Linked DNA regions of Homo sapiens: region 2 is linked to region 1. The links come from fine-mapping of genetic effects on gene expression. Tissue or cell type: whole blood. Region 1 holds a variant in brackets; the other region holds the start of a gene. All regions are shown on one strand. Distances are from middle to middle.

Region 1 (2,758 bases):
GACCTCTTCTATCACTCATTCCTGGCTTATCTGGAACCTATCCCCCCTTTAGAGCCTACCACTAAGATACTCTTGAGCTAGACAGGGCCTAAACCACCATAAGACCAGCAGAGAGTGACCAAGGCAGCTTGGTCTCCAGAAAAGGAAAAGAACTGATCTTTAGACTGGATTAGTTCCCCTGCTGTATGTTCCCTTAGTTCTTGTATGTCTCCTATCCCACCACTCTGCATACTTTATTTGCTTGTGTCTGGGTAGCCTGTCTTCCTGGTCTAAAATTTCTACAAGGGCAAGGACTAAATCTCATATTTAGTGCTCAATTCCTAGAATCTAGCACAGTGCTGACATATGGTAGGCACTCAACGACAAGTGAATGAATAAATAATTTTTTAGATGAATCCCTTAAGAACAGGATGGGACCTGCTATGGGAGTGAGGTAGAGATGGCCAGCTGGAATCTTCTTTCCCCACCATATCCAGAAAACTGCCTGGAGCAGTTGGAGATGGGATTTCCACGGGGAGCCCAGCCAGCCCCACTGCTGTGCTCCGTTCTGAAGGCCTCGGGTTCTCTGCAGCAGCTGTCCCTGGATAGTGCCACCTTTGCCTCTCCCCAGGATTTTGGGCTTGTTTTGCAAACACTCAAAGGTAGGACCCAGCCAGAATGGTGAAGGGAGAGGAGTAGGTGGGGACCTAGCACTGTTCTCTAGGAAAGCTAAGGTCCATGGTCCATGGTCTCTGCCTCCTATCCAGAGTACAACCTAGCCCTGAAAAGACTGAGCTTCCATGACATGAATCTCGCTGACTGTCAGAGCGAGGTGCTCTTTTTGCTACAGAATCTGACTCTGCAAGGTAAGTTCCTTATTCAGAACCTGGACATTTCCTGGGTCTTCACTATGGTTCTGCCATAATCTGAGTGAGCAAACCACTGTTCCTTTCTTGGCCTTGTGTCCTCAGCTATAAAATGGATATAGAACCTGCATGATTTTCCTTCTAAAAGCCCCAACCTCAATTCCTCCTCTACTAAACATGAGAAATCGCTCTTTTAGAGTGCTTCACCCAAAAGTTGCTCTTACCTTTCAGAGGTGGACAAAATGGTGGTGGTGGGGCAAAATAAATGTACTGTGCCAG[G/A]CTCCCCTCATAGACTTTTCTCTGATCCCCACCCCCGCATAGAGGGTGGCCAGTGTTAGGGAAAGAAGGAAGTGAATGGAGAATTGTCCATGCAGAGAACCTTCTTATAGGGAACATTTAGGTTCAGTCTTTAGTTTGGATTCTGATTTAGTTCCAGCCTTGCTTGGAGTCTAGACAAATTCCTTCCTCTTTTTGGGCCTCTATAATGTTAATACCCCTTGCTAGGGCCAACTGGGGCAGGAGGGGCAGCACCAGTCCTAATGCAGCCATCAGAATTTACTATAATTTTTCTTGACAGAGATTACCTTCTCCTTCTGCCGTCTGTTTGAGAAGCGCCCAGCCCAATTTCTGCCTGAGATGGTTGCTGCTATGAAGGGCAACTCCACACTGAAGGGCCTCCGGCTGCCAGGGAACCGCCTGGGTGGGGGCCAGACCCTGGGGAGGGAGAGGGGAAAGGAGCTAGGCCTTTGACCTAAAAACTCACTGGATAAAGGCAAAGACCTCTCCACTGGGAACGTGGGAGTTGGAATACAGATATTTCTGTGCTGGGGCTTCAGGAACCAGCAGGGCTGGTTCTGCCAGCCATAGTTGGGTTGGGATACCCTTGTCCCCTGTTCTTGGGTGGAGGTGATAGGCGTTCTCCCCTTCTCTCCAGGGAATGCTGGCCTGCTGGCCTTGGCAGATGTTTTCTCAGAGGATTCATCCTCCTCTCTCTGTCAGCTGGACATCAGGTACATGAGGGGAGGGGCAAGACAAGGGATGGGGCTACAGAGATATAGACCAGGAATTCACTGCTTCCTGGATATCTAATCCATCTCACCCTACCAGTTCCAACTGCATCAAGCCAGATGGGCTTCTGGAGTTCGCCAAGCGGCTGGAGCGCTGGGGCCGTGGAGCCTTTGGTCACCTGCGCCTCTTCCAAAACTGGCTGGACCAGGATGCAGTCACAGCCAGGGAAGCCATCCGGCGGCTCCGGGCTACCTGCCATGTGGTTAGCGACTCATGGGACTCATCCCAGGCCTTCGCAGATTATGTTAGCACCATGTGATGGGGCCCGTACCTCACAGTCTCATGCTCGGTACCATCAGCTTGCAGGGGCTGAAGCATGGGCTGCCCAGAACCCCAACCACCAGTTCTATCTTTCTCTTTCTGTCACCTTTTTTCTCTTTTTTCCTTCTTCCCTTGCACTGAGGTCCTGGAGGCCTTGATGAGGCCCAGCAAACAGGCATTCTCACAGCTGGGTTTATAGTCTTTGGGCCCCTTACTCAGTATCCTGGGAACCCTGGGCCAGGAGGTTACAGTGGTCATCATAATTGCTGAAGAGATCCCCTCCCCTGCCCCTGGGTTCCTGCCTTCCCTCCTCAAGCAGGCACCCAGGCTTTAGAGAAGTATAGGGGGCTTCTTCCCTGCTGGGCTTACCACACTGCTCTCAGGCCTCAAACCCTTTCATACCTTTATTCTTTTTTTTAACCAAAAAAGTTTTTCTTATAAAATAAATTTTGGGCAAACATCATGCAGCCCTTCTTGATGATTTTCTCCCAGAGAACAAAATTCAACAGGGCCCTGTGGAGCAAGGAGCCCCTTTTCCCTATCTCCTTCCTCTAAGAGCTACACCCAGACCAGCTGGTTATCAG
Region 2 (2,629 bases), 110 kb before region 1:
GGGCTACACCCTGGGCTGGCATGCAAGGTGCCTTCCTCATATCTCTCTCCTGTTCCTCTCCACGAAAGTGTGGCTGCAGAGTGCAGCGGGCACCTAGGTTCTAGTTCCAGCTCTGCCCCAACTCAAAAATCACTTGCGGAACATCTGCTGAACACAATTTTCTGTGACTCTTTCTGTCTCCCACCCAGGCACACCCTCCTGAGTCCTGCGGTTCCCAACCTGTAAAGCCTTCCCACCTGTCAGGTCCCACAGATACAGCAAGCCCTCCCTCTCTCAGCACATAAGAAGGCTTTAACTGGGGTCAGTGTTTCACACACCCAGAGGAAAAGCCCCTCTTCAAGCCACATCTTCCAAACCCTCAGCCAGGCCCTTCCACGCCTCCAAACCCACATACTGAGGTGATCCAAAGGCAGCGCAGGGAGAAAAGCTTGTTGACAGACCACCCACGGAGGGCTGGAACTAAACCTGCTCATGGAAAGGGCTTGCCAGGGGTTGGACACCACAGCAGGAGCCAGAGAGACTTCCCTTCTAGCCTGGCTTTGCCAAGATCTCCCTGTGCACTTGGCAGGTTTCTTTCTGGCTCCCTCTTAGGATCCAAATGCACAAATCAAGAAGCTTGAACTCAGCCAGGCGCGGTGGCTCACGCCCAGCACTTTGGGAGGCCGAGGCAGGTGTATCAACTGAGGTCAGGCGTTTGAGATCAGCCTGGCCAACATGGTGAAACCCAGTCTCTACTAAAAATGCAAAAATTAGCCAGGCGTAGTGGCGGGCCCCTGTAATCCCAGCTACTGGGGATGCTGAGGCAGCAAGAATCGCTTGCACCCGGGAGGCGGAGGTTGCAGTGAGCCGAGATCGCACCACTGCACTCTTGCCTGGGAGTCAGAGCGAGACTCCGTCTCAAAACAAAACAAAAAAAAACAAAAAACAAAACTCTAAGCTCTCCAGATCCCCTTGGCCATTACACTCTGCGATTCCAAAGTCCTCAACCCCTGGCATCCCACTGGTTGTCACGCTTGCGTTTTCGCATTCCAATAGGCAGCAATCGTGAGATTCTTTGGCACAAAGCAAAACTCCTCTTTGACCCAGTGAGGGAAAGGCCTTCCACCACCTGCCTTGACACTACCGTTTCCTTTCTTCCCCCGTGCTCTACCTGGCTCAGAAAGTGCGGAATATCTTAGGGCAAGGAGAGATTCTGGAGAGTTACACATCTGCTCTGCCCGCCCCATCCCCTGTCCCTCGGCGGGTCCGGCGGCTGAAAGTGCCGCTGCGAGTACCCTCAGGCCGCGCCCATCCCACTACGCTCCGGCAGTCACCTGGAGCCGGAAGCGCTGCGCCGCCCTGTCCATGTTCTCCAGGCCCGCTCGCTGCCTCTGTCGCGCCCGGACCACCGCGCCCCGCGCCGTCCGGCGCCCGGACCAGCGCAGGGCCACGGCCGCCGCCACGAAGCAGCAGGCCAGGGCGACCCCGGAGGCGCCAGGCAGCGCGGCCCACAGCTCGTACTGCACCATGATCCCTTCAGCCTGCTGCTGCCTACCGCGACAGTTGAAGCCGCCGCACGCGCAGCCCGCCCGCTCCGCCGCAAAACCCGGACTGGATCAGCCGGGATCCCACGCCCGCCTGCGCGGGAGGGGCGGGGAAGCGCGCCAGAGCCTAGAGGCTATCAGAGGCGGCCCGCCTGGCATCGCCCCCAGCGACATCCCGCTCCCCGCCAAGCCGAGCAGGCGGGTGGGGAAGGGCGACTGTTTCTCGTGGGCGACCTCCCAAGCTTGAGTTTAGCACCGGTTGGGCACCACAGCCCCGGCCGTCCTCTGCCCCCTGCACCCCAGAGCCCCAAATGCTGAAGACTGCGCCCCAGCCGGAGCCCCATGCCAGACATGCCAGCTGTTAGATATGAGTTCTAAATTTATCTTAAAAGAATCAATATGTCAGTATCTTCAATTCTTTGCCTTCTACTTTTAAACTTAACTTCCTCATAAAGCAACATTTTTCGATTACCTGCTCCTCCCTCACTCATTCTTCACCGTGGTTCATTCCGATTTCCTGCTCTGCGGTAACCATTTTTCCCGCCAAACCACTCACCCCCTCACTGTCTTTAAATTAGCCAATCGGAATTAGTTTAGCCTATAGGTCTAACCCTAGCCAACAGGGGAAGGACACAGCATCAGGAATCACGTGGGTCAGGCATAAGAACCACCTTCCCCTCCCTTGTCCAGGTGTGCGCTCACCTTTGCTCCGTCTGTGAGGGCGCACCCTTCTATAGAAGTAAATTGCCTTGCTGAGAAGAAAAAAAAGAAAATTTTATATTCGAGTGCTATTTCTTTTGCGGCACTGGGGGGAAACTTTATTTATAACAATTTGGGGGCTTGCTCGTGATTACATTCCCCTTCAGGGGCAGTCTCTGGTTCTCTCTCCTGAGGAGGTATGCCCCACCCTCTTGTGATGGCCTCAGGGGTGAGAAATCAGGACTCACCCAGTGCAAGAAATAACCTGAGCTCTCAGCAATGTGAAAAGAAACCAGCAGGCAACCTAGGGTAAAGCATCCTCACACACTGCAGAGACAACTCTGTGCACAGACAAAGGAAGAAGCCGAGGGAGCCGGTAAGGTACTTCCTTGGTGGTCAAATTCTGG

What was found. PIP is the estimated chance that this variant, and not a neighbour inherited with it, causes the effect.
Region 2: FAAH starts here. The variant in region 1 is fine-mapped to the expression of FAAH in whole blood (INTERVAL, PIP 0.98).

The regions. Positions count from the first base shown.
Region 1 is chr1:46,278,279-46,281,036 of GRCh38, reverse strand. RAD54L (RAD54 like) reads right to left here. Exons shown (of 18, transcript NM_003579.4): 18 at 2,564-2,758. The coding sequence ends at 2,755. It overlaps LRRC41 (leucine rich repeat containing 41), which reads left to right. Exons shown (of 10, transcript NM_006369.5): 6 at 477-641; 7 at 747-845; 8 at 1,423-1,545; 9 at 1,780-1,855; 10 at 1,953-2,758. The coding sequence ends at 2,172. Among named protein-coding and RNA genes, the nearest start is that of LRRC41, 24 kb to the left of the region's middle. The variant G/A (reference allele first, on the strand shown) is at 1,125.
Region 2 is chr1:46,393,228-46,395,856 of GRCh38, reverse strand. It overlaps FAAH (fatty acid amide hydrolase), which reads right to left and starts at 1,540. Exons shown (of 15, transcript NM_001441.3): 1 at 1,314-1,540. The coding sequence starts at 1,508. RefSeq lists an enhancer at 1,139-1,652.